3 linked regions of the Homo sapiens genome follow. The protein of the gene in region 1 purifies or fractionates together with the protein of each later gene. This does not show direct contact. Each region holds a gene or a part of one and is shown on either strand. Other genes may lie near its edges. The genes, in order: WDR48, UNC13B and TRMT11.

The links.
Region 2: the proteins of WDR48 (region 1) and UNC13B purify together in Homo sapiens (affinity purification with mass spectrometry, with the first as the bait; one large-scale study listed by BioGRID). This does not show direct contact.
Region 3: the proteins of WDR48 (region 1) and TRMT11 purify together in Homo sapiens (affinity purification with mass spectrometry; one large-scale study listed by BioGRID and IntAct). This does not show direct contact.

Annotation. Positions count from the first base shown.
Region 1 is NC_000003.12:39,082,982-39,086,633, reverse strand, and holds part of WDR48 (WD repeat-containing protein 48), read right to left. Parts: intron 2,480-3,652; coding exon 2,372-2,479; intron 1,990-2,371; coding exon 1,893-1,989; intron 1,120-1,892; coding exon 1,024-1,119; intron 334-1,023; exon of another isoform or gene 250-333; intron 1-249. UniProt on the Homo sapiens protein: Regulator of deubiquitinating complexes, which acts as a strong activator of USP1, USP12 and USP46. Enhances the USP1-mediated deubiquitination of FANCD2; USP1 being almost inactive by itself.
Region 2 is NC_000009.12:35,308,390-35,312,041, forward strand, and holds part of UNC13B (protein unc-13 homolog B), read left to right. Parts: coding exon 1-23; intron 24-2,077; coding exon 2,078-2,392; intron 2,393-3,652. UniProt on the Homo sapiens protein: Plays a role in vesicle maturation during exocytosis as a target of the diacylglycerol second messenger pathway.
Region 3 is NC_000006.12:125,989,489-125,993,140, forward strand, and holds part of TRMT11 (tRNA (guanine(10)-N(2))-methyltransferase TRMT11), read left to right. Parts: intron 1-3,652. UniProt on the Homo sapiens protein: Catalytic subunit of the TRMT11-TRM112 methyltransferase complex, that specifically mediates the S-adenosyl-L-methionine-dependent N(2)-methylation of guanosine nucleotide at position 10 (m2G10) in tRNAs.

The sequences.
Region 1 (3,652 bases):
TGGAAAGATTTTTCCATCAGTTTCTTTAGCTCAAAGTCCACTGTACAATTCTGACAGGGATCAAAGTGTGTCAGGTGATGTAAAAGAAAAGCCACCATGGGTGGGGCAACAGCACCCTCTCTCTGACAGGAACATCAGAAGACTGGTTTTCAAGGAAGCATGTCATCCTCATGTGAGAGATTTAAATTCCACATATCATTATGGGTGAATCTGACAGCCAGAACAAAGTCCCTGGCAGGAGGTACTCGCCATTGTTGCTCACTCCTGGTGGCCAGCAGAGAATCTTCAGCAGAGTAAGCCTCAGTCGATGGGACTCAATGATTCCTCAACCAGCTGTAGGTTACACATGAGGATGTGAAATTCTAAGTTCTTGTTTCCCCTTCCTTTGATCAAACTGAGCCAAATGCATATATTCAAAACATGTTCTCCTCTGCTGCTCAGGGAACGTTACTGCCACTGCCTATGGCACACACACGTTTCAGATGTCCTCAGTGACATTAATTCTTTACACATGCTTGAGCATATGCCCTGTCACTTCTGAGTTGGAATTTGAATTTTTTTTTGAAACAGAGTCAAAATCAGGTAGGCCATGAGACTAGGAAATACCAACATTTCAGCCCAACATGAAGAGTGACTATGCAATGACAAACCTGGCTTTCTGATGCAGCTAACTACCTAGCTTTGGAGGTTAATCCAAAAGATCAGAGGTACCTTGAAGAATATTTTGGAAATAAGTCTGTTAAGGTGCCTCATTTTAAGACAAAAGTCATCTGAATATAGAGTATTTTATTTATCTTGAGCAGTCTCACTAAAAGCCATATCATAAGGTGGTCTGCTCTTTTGGAATCTCAGTCTCAGTTAAGACTGGATGGATGTTCCTACTTTGAGATATGGAAGAGAGGACAATAAACTGAGTACACCACAAATATTTTAGCTAACGGTTTAAGTAAGTACCTTTTAGTAAGTACCTTTTAAGTAAGTACCTCTAACTTTTTATGCAACTATCTGAATATAAAAACTAACCATGGTTTACTTCATTTTCCTCTTCATCCATTGGATTCACATGTGTTCTAGGCCAATATTCCAGGAGTGCTTGGAGTAAAAGTCCTCCTAAATTCACTGCAAAAAAGTTAATTAAAAAGAGATAAAATGGAAAAGCGAGTTACTTGGCTTTAACCTAAAAATAGAATAAAAATTGTAAGTTTGTACATATTCTGATGTTACATTCTTAACCCAATGCGAATGATGTCTAAAATAAAGACTTTAGTCATTTTGCCAATTCTGCTAAAATTTTATCTTAGAATGTTTAAAGCAATGATGCTATGGAGCAAAGACATATTCTACTTGGTTGTTCAGATACAGCTATTATTTAAAAACAAACATGAGAATCAGATTTTTTTTTTTTTTGAGATAGAGTCTCGCTCTGTCACCCAGGCTGGAGCGCAGTGGTGCAATCTCGGCTCACTGCAAGCTCCGCCTCCCGGGTTCACGCCATTCTCCTGCCTCAGCCTCCCGAATAGCTGGGACTACAGGCACCCGCCACCACGCCCGGCTAATTTTTTGTATTTTTAGTAGAGACGGGGTTTCACCGTGTTAGCCAGGATGGTCTCGATCCCCTGACCTCGTGATCCACCCGCCTCGGCCTCCCAAAGTGCTGAGATTACAGGTGTGAGCCACTGCGCCTGGCCGAGAATCAGATTCTTTAAACGGCTATTTCCATATGAAATTACTAAAATGATTTGTATACATTAGGTATTTGTACATACCACATTTTTAGGACATAGTCAACAAAATATAGAGAACTTTTACAAAGATAAGTACTTAGCAAAAAACAGCTCATATTCATCTTCTCTTTAGAAGGGAGGAAAAAAATGAAGGACACTTAAACTCACATTTTGGATCTGACCCATCAGGGCTGCTGAAACCAGCATCTTTTGCAGAAACCCAGGCAGCAAAACAATCACTTTCATCCAAAGTAATAGTTAACATCTATCAAAAGAAAAAACTTAGTGGCATCCCATTTGAATATATTCTCCAAACAAGTCTCTAAACCTTCATTTATTTGTACTATTTGACTAAAGTGCTAAGTCATAAATTCAGGAACCAAAATGTGTTTTGTGTGATTCAATGCAACAACACAATTTAGTTTCCTGGGATACCAAAGGCATTTTGTAACTTTTAAATTTTTTTCTTTTTTAATATATTTTTAATTTTGTTTTTTTCTTTTTTATTCCATTTTGCATTTTAAGTTTTAACACAAATTTTTTTTTTCACACCTAAAAACACAGGACTCTGTAACTAATAATAATTATAAGCTATAATGAAAATCTTCAATTATCCCAAATCATACAAGTATCAATTGCTAACTTACCCCTGTTTTTAAGTCTACTGAGAACCAATTTGGCACATACACCATTTTAAATCTTTTCTTAATTTCATCTTCAAAATCCACTTTGCCCAGATCTTCAACTTTACATGCCTATACATCAAAAGAAAGTATAATGATCAATATTAAGTGGTGAATTCACTTGATTCTGACTTTGCTATTCAAAATTTTACATATTTTCACATGTGTCTAAGTGAAACAGTCTAAAATACATTTCAAAAAGAATGTGGTCCTTTTTTAAAATAACAATCTGCTGCTATAAAAAATTTAAATTAAAAAAGCACAAAATAGTATTTGGGAAGAAACTGTATTTAATTGTGCTGATATTGATATAATATACCACCTCATCTTAACAGCAACGTGGCTCTTTCGAGGGTCCCAGTTGTCGGCCATCTTCTCAAAGGGGGACTGCTTATTTTCCCACATCCCATTGTTCCTTGATGCTCCATGGAGACCATTACTCTACCATCTCCCATGTAAAAACTTATTTCTCTGAGGCCTATGTCATTTAGCAACAGTAAACGGTACACCTTTCCTTCACTGCCATCTAGCAACCTGCCACTCTCCCTCATTTACTGGAGACTTGAGCCCTGGGGTCACTGTCTTGCAGTCCATCTCAACTAAATCTCTCTTCTACCTCTGACCTTGCCACCTTCCCCATTATCCTCAGCACATGACTCTGATTCCTTTTTCTCAAAACAAAGAGAAGCCTTGACAGAATCCCCTTAACTTTCTCTATCATTCTCCCTGGTGCAAGGAAAACGGTGTCCCTTCTGACTGTGCTCCGGTCCCCCTCACCTCTTGCTTCTTGGGATGACCTTGTATTGTCATCTACCCATGAATGTCTCTACTGGCTTCTTCCCAGGAGCAATGAAATATGCTCAAATTTCTTACATCTGAAAAATACCCAAATATCCAAACAAAACCAAACAAAATCAAAAGCTTCCTTTGGCCCTCTGACTCCTACATCTTCTCTAGTTTCCGCCGCTTCCTGCCTACCCCTCCAATCAAATTTCTTCAAAGATTATCCAGTCAAATTTTCTGTTTCTTCACCTTCAAATCACTACTCAACTCACTCTACCTGGCTTTTGCCCTTAAGACTCTACCCAGAGGCCACCCTCTTTATTTAAATCCATGATGTTAGTCACATCTTAAATCAACTCACAGCAGGTTAATGCCACTAACCGCAAGCTTCTTCTTGAAACACTCAATTAGTTCTGGAGCTGCCACTGGCTCTTCATTTTCTTACTCCCCCGCAACTTTTTA
Region 2 (3,652 bases), on another chromosome or scaffold:
AAGGAGCCCATGACCAACAAAAGGCCTGTTCTTAACTCAAGCATCATAAATGGCTTTAAGGAATTGACCATTTATGATGCAAGTGACTTAGTGGTAGATTAATCATAGCTTGCTTTTTATCCTTCTTGTGTCTTTCCTAGTACCCGAGCTTCATGTTAATTAGGGGTTAAATAACAAGAACTCAGTGTGTGGGTATTTTCATCCTCCCCTTCTCTCTCTGCCAAATGTAATTCATTTACTGGAACAAGGAGCTTCCTGCTTAAAGCAAAAGCTGGGCCCCCGATATTTACTCACTCTGGTTTGCTCTGCCTTGTATAATGTGAAATGGAGAAAGGAGGGCAGGAAGAGGTAGTAAGTAGTTGGTGGTATATATTAACTACAACTACATGATAGGCTAGGATGCTTCCTTGGGCCTTAGGCACTTATATCTTGTAGGAGATGGGGATAGATCTATTTTGCTTTGTTTTTTCAAGTCTTCTAAGATGCTTTCTCCAGTGGCAATGAGTGTATTAAGCAAAATACAAAGTGCAAAGGATGCCTTGGGATAGTCTGTATTCCCATATCCTATTCCATACAGATTTGCATAGTTTCTTCCATGGTATCATCTCTGCCTTTTACTACCCTCAAGGCTGATGTCTGATAAATGCTTTGAGTAAAATCTCACAGGAACTCAGAGCTGTCCTTTGCTGTAGTTCTTCAGTCTCGAGCAGTGTACAGGATCTATCTGCAGAGGGTACTGTTATTTCCCCTAAGAAGCAGTACCATACAGTACAGATTAAGAATGCTACCTTGACCTCTGGCCCAAACTTGTTCAAAGGGGTTGGTCAGGGTCAGTGTGTGTGTGTGTGTGTGTGTGTGTGTGTGTGTGTGTGTGTATACTTATGTACAAGTATATGTGTTTGTGTGTTGAACTACTCAGAACAGTGACCTGGTACCTATTCTGCTGGCATGGGCTAGAGGATCAGAAATCAGCCTGAAAATACCAGGTAATTAGGAGGAACTTTAGGGAAAATCCCATTGGAAAATAACAGTGATTTCTCTTCTTTGACCAAGGGTAAACACAAGCCCTTTAGTTAAAGGCTTGACTCTGTGGTAAGAAAATTCTTCAAAAGAACTGAAGCCCTTAGATGACAGGGCCATAAAACTCAAGGAAGTAACTTCTAGATACTGCTCTTCTTTCCACCACTCTGCCCTTCTTGCCACTGTCACATTCTCTGCTATAACTGCTTTCTCTCATGACTTTCTGGATATGGGAATACAGGTGATTGAGAAAAGATTGGCTTGCTGGTCTTCAGATATAGAGATGCATGAATACGGCTCTGACCCAGATCCTGGAGTTGGACTTTGTCCACTCTTTCCAAAACTGAGCCTTGCCCTGAAAGAAGCTCAGTTACAGATGTTCATCTTTGGGACGCTTCCTATGCTGCCAGGGATATCATTGTAGCATTTATGTTGATGAGACCATTCGTTTGTGTATTCTCTTGGTCCTGGCCTCTATCTTCCAATGGGTTCTATTAACTCATCTTGCAGATGAGGAAACTGAGATGATAACTGAAAGAACATGTCTGCTCTCCTTTGCTCATCCTAAGGTACAGGCGTACACATTTACAATTGTAGAGGAAGAAATGATGACCTCAATGTAATAAGTAATAGAAAAAGAGTGGAGTTCATTCATTCCATTTTACTGTGTGGAAATTAAAGAAAGATTAATCACAGCCACTGGACAAGCTTCTTTAGAAGACTGAATAAAGAATTTTAGGAATAAGTAACAGGCCATTTTAATAATTTTTAATCCTACTCACAAATAGCCTATTAAGATAAAATATACTTCAAAGTCAAGTGCAGAACTGAGGTTAAGTGTCGTTGGAGAACCCAGCATGTTGTGTTGTTTTCCTGTTGTGTTTTCGCTGAATAGAGACTAATTCTTCTAGATTATGAAGTTTGGTCCTCTCTTCCCAGGAACCTCCTATTTGATTCTTGCTACTAATGTAGTCATTATTTCCTGGATGTCTCCTTTCTTTTGTCCTGGTCCCTGATTGCATTTATTTACTTATCTGTCTTTCTGTCATTCTCACAGCCCCACCAGCAGCAGTAGGTATGGCTCCTCCTGTAATGTGAGTCAAGGAAGCTCTCAGCTAAGTGAACTAGACCAGTATCACGAACAAGATGACGACCATCGGGAGACGGACTCGATTCATTCTTGCCACAGCTCTCACAGCCTGTCCAGAGATGGCCAAGCAGGTTTTGGAGAACAAGAGAAACCCTTGGAGGTGACAGGTCAAGCAGAGAAGGAGGCAGCATGTGAACCCAAGGAGATGAAAGAAGATGCCACAACCCACCCTCCCCCAGATCTGGTGCTGCAAAAAGACCACTTCCTAGGTCCCCAGGAGAGGTAGGCAACAGCTGCCTTGAGGAGCTCACATGGCTTCCTCAGTACCTGCCCTGTGGTATTGCTGAAAATAAGTGATTGTCATTTGTTTCCCTGCAGCTGGGTATGGTGGTAGTTAACACCTCCAGGCTCAACTCTGTATTGCTTCCTTTGATTTATGGTGCACTTTCCAAGACATTTTGGAGATCTCTGAAGAATATTTGGGTTTTTGTTTGTTTGCTTTTGAGATAGGGTCTCACTCTGTTGTCCAGGCTGGCACGATCTTGGCTCACTGCAGCCTCAACAGCCTGGTCTCAAGCAATTCTCCCACCTCAGCTTCCTGAGTAGCTGGGACTACTAGGTGTGCACCACCACACCTGGCTAATTGTATGTTTATAGAGACAAGGTTTCACCATGTTGCCCAGGCTGGTCTTGAACTCCTGAGCTCAAGCAATCCACCTGCCTCAGACTCCCAAAGTGCTGGGATTACAGCGGTGTGCCACTGCACCCAGCCAGCACTTGGGTTCTTTGTAGTTAGTGAGCTGCAGTGTACCAGGGCTTCTTGAGTCTGCAGTTCATAGCTTACTAGTTGACCTTGTATATGGCAGCCTCTGAGTCAGGAACTGACTTGAGCCAGGTTATTTCATCCACTGGGGCTGTGGTAGGTACTTTGGCTGACTTCCTAACCTATTAAGAATGCTACTTTGACCTCTGGCCCAAACTTGTTCAAAGGGGTTGGTCAGGGTCAGTGTGTGTGCATGTACTTATGTACAGGTATATGTGTATGTGTGTTGAAGTACTCAGAACAGTGACCTGGTACCTATTCTGCTGGTATGGGCTAGAGGATCAGAAATCAGCCTGAAAATACCAGGCAATTAGGAGGAACTTAGGGAAAATCCCATTGGAAAATAACAGTGATTTCTGTTGTAACTTTTTTGGTGAACATTTTGTTTTGTTTTTCCCTGGCTGAGAAACCCAGGACAGAGTTAAGAAAGAATTGATCTAGAAGTCAGATTTAACCCACCCCTCAGCCTCCTCAGGGCCTAGCAATGTGTCTGCCAATTGGTATCCATAGGAAGAAAAATTTAAAATGTATCCTCTTTAACATCTCATAATGAAGCTGAGTACAGAGTCTGAATGTTATTACTGAGCTAAATCGGTTAGACTAGCTGATAGGTTGGAGCAGAGCCAGAGTTCTCAGTCTCGGCACTCGTGACATTTTGGGCCAGATTATTCTTTGTTGTGTATATTATAGGATGTTTAATAGCATCACTGGCCTCTACA
Region 3 (3,652 bases), on another chromosome or scaffold:
TTTGTGTTTTAGAAAGATCATTCTGAAGTACGAGAGAAAAGATACCACTTAGAGAATACTGGACCAGAACTAGAGAGGCTCAGGAGTGTGACTGTGTAAAGTAAGGCAATGCAGTGACAATGGAGTGGTTAGACTGTGGTCTCCAGAATAACAACCTTAGTACTTGGTGATTTTTACTTGTTTTTTCCGTCGTAAATTCTTCTTAGTGTATTACACTTGTGCCAGTTTATTCTTCCAAAAACTCTGTTCTGTTTTACACCCTCATTTTTCTTAAGATGAAAATCTTTAGTCGGGCATTCAAAGTCCATCACTGCATGGTTCTTTCCTTTGTGCTTTCACTTCCCACCTAGTCCTTAGTGCTGCCAAAACTGACTCATTATTCCCTGAATTCCTGCTTTCACCTTTGCTCTCTGTGCTCCCTTTAGTCTGGTTTGGGTCTTTCCCATTCTTTATTGATTTTTACATAGGAAGTATTCATTTAGAGTTAATCACATGTTTATTTCTTTTAGCTTTATATGTTTTACATGATTATTTTTCAGATCCACAGTTCCCTTTCTGTAGTTTTTCCTCCTCTGCCAAAATTCTTATTTTTTTCTTGAATCCCCTTCAATGTAGAAAGCGTAGTTATGTTAAAGTATATGATAAAAGGGATCCTGTGGGTCTGTTTCTATTGTTTCTTTTTGTTCTGTTTCATATAGTGGGCTATTTTTAAAATATATGCCAGATGTTGTATTTGAAAATTTATTTGAAAAAATAATTTGAGGGCTGGGATGATGTACATCCTCTTCAAGAAGATAGGAACGCATAGGAGCATGAGGAATCTAGGTTGGGTTTAACTCATTTTCAGGTGTTAAGCCCTGTTTGTGTTCTGATTCCCAGGTACTCACAGAGTGTAGCTTTTTGACATCCTAGTGTAAATTAGGTGGTTCATCAAGTATCCTTTTCTCCTCTGGGGGGCCCTTTCTCTTTTTTTCCCTTTCTATCGGGCACTCAGAAGGGCTGTTCACTCTTGCAGCTGTTTTTGGATTTGTAAATGTCTCAGGGAAAAAGTGGCTCCACCTTGGAATTTTTGTCCTCTCCTGGATGTTGGTTTGGTAATTTTTGTTATCTTTCTATGCCTTCAATTAGATGGCCAGCTTTTCTAGTTCTTTTCAGCAAGAAGCTTAATCTGAATTACCTCTTTTGCCATACCTGGAAGTTGAATTCCTGTCATTGGGTTAGATTTTTTTCAGGGATTGAGGCAGTTTCCATGAAACTTTACTTCTCAAACTGAAGTAATCTTTTACTCTCTTGTACTCTAATACTTTTTTGCTTTTACCTGTTTAAGAACATGTACTGTTTTTTACACTTTACATTTCAGTTGTGAGGTGGTTTTGTTGGTTCTACTAGACCATAATTTCCCTAAGATAAATGTGTGTGTATTTTTACATAGATCAGGGACTTGCACATATTAGTTGCTTAAAAATTTTTTTGGGGGTCCGGGCGCAGTGGCTCACTCCTGTAATTCCAGTACTTTGGGAGGCTGAGGCGGGCGGATCACAAGGTCAGGAGTTCGAGACCAGTCTGGCCAACATAGTGAAACCCCATCTCTACTAAAAATACAAAAAATTAGCCAGATGTGGTGGTGTGCGCCTGTAATCTCAGCTACCCAAGAGGCTGAGGCAGGAGAATCGCATGAACCTGGGAGGTGGAGGTTGCAGTGAGCCGAGATCACACCATCGCACTCCAGCCCGGGTGACAGTGTGAGACTCCATCTCAAAAAAAAAAAAAAAATTTTTTTTGGAGACTGTTCTCTCTCTGTTTTCCAGGCTACAGTGCAGTGGCGTGACCGTGGCTCACTGCAGCCTCAAAGACCCAAGTTAAGCCATCCTCCCACCTTAGCTTCCTGAGTAGCTGGGACTACAGGTGCACCACTATGTCTGGCTAATTTTTTTATTTTTATTTTTGTGGAGCCGGGTGTTAATCAGAGGCTGAGTGTTGGTGTGAGGGGGCGGGAGGGGGTCTTGGGAGCTCTCACTGTGTTGCCAGGGTTGGTCTCAGACTCCCGGTCTCAAGTTATCTCTTTGCCTCGGCCTCCCAAAGTGCTGGGATTGCAGGTGGAGCCGCCATACCTGGCTGCTTAAAATATTAAAATCAGTGATATAGAATCTCTTCTGGGAAAGGCAATGCAAAGGACAGTCTATCCTTTTGGGCCCAGCTACTGCATTAGAACTGATAAGCAAGGAAGCTATAATGAATGGCTGCCTTTATGAATTAAAATGAGAGATCAGGAATATAAGTGTGGTCCAGTTTTACCTCTGATAGAGTTAATCAGGGCTAAGTATAGTTGGCAGCTACTTAATGTAGTACTTATTGTACTAAATAGTGTTTACTAAAGTTCAAACTCCTGGGTTTTATTGCTTGTCCTGAAGCAACCTTTTAAATGGATGAAAAAGCAAGTAGCTGAAATAATAGAAAAGCTCATGGAATTAACGCATCACACATGCCCCAGATCATGCTACATTTTTATATCCAATGTTCAATATAAATTATTTTTTATTCCTAATATAGAAAGAGTCTCAACTGGAAAGTTGAATTTGCCATAAGATTAATGAACATTTTGTGTTTTGCTTTTTCCAAGTAGATTGATGAAGTGGTTTAAACATGTTTTGCTTTTCAATTTGAAACTTGGGTTATCATATTTATTCTCAGTTTTAGGTGGCTGCTTAAGCTTTGGGTAGTAGAGATAATGCTATGCCATAAAACTTTAATCTTTCACTTTTTTTCCCCACCTAACTCTTAGGATCTTTGTGTTTTAGCTTGTTGCAGCTTTTTAACAGTATATTCCAGGAGCAGCAAACTTTGGTGTTTTAACTTGGTTATAGTTGGATGTTTTAAATGTAAAACTGACTTTACAATATGCTTTAATATAGAACAAACAACAATCATGCAAGATGAAGTAATTTAATCTATAACTTTATTTTTTTTCTTTTAAGTGCTATAACTCTATCAGTCTTGGTTGACTTCTTGAGCCACTGGACTTCTAGGACAGTTATCAGGGTCCTCATCATTTTGATTCCCTTAATAACCACCTAGGTTCTATGCTTCTCTCTTTATAGTTCACCTAACCTGATGAGGTAGCTATGATTCCTGTTTCACATTTGAGGGAACTAAAAGTTGGAGGATTTAAGATTCTTGTATAAAGCCACATCGCTAGTATTTGGAAGAGCTGAAAATCAGATTATGGTCTATTTAATTTCTAAGTCTCATGATGTCTCCTATTCAGATTTGTGTTTTCCTTGCTGCAAAATAACCTTTGGGCTGCCTTCACTGATTTATCAGTAGTCTGTGATAGTTCTTGGTCGATCCATCTGATTGGACTGAATTCAGCCCCTTCTAACACTGAATTTTAAAAAATGATTTGTTGCATAGACAAAATAGAAATGGCACTAGTAGCTTGAACTTCTCATTCTTCTTGGTCTTGGAGTGGGGGACTTCCTGGTCTGGGTATAGTTTCCCTTTTGATGGCGGTGGGCTTGGTGTTAAAGGCTCTTCCTTCTGGTTGGGAGGAAAGGGGATAGTAGGTAGCCAGCAGTGGAACACTTACCTCTCATTAGGTTCCATCCTCCATGAGACCTATATGGAAGAGTGTGATTCTACCTGTTTTATGTGA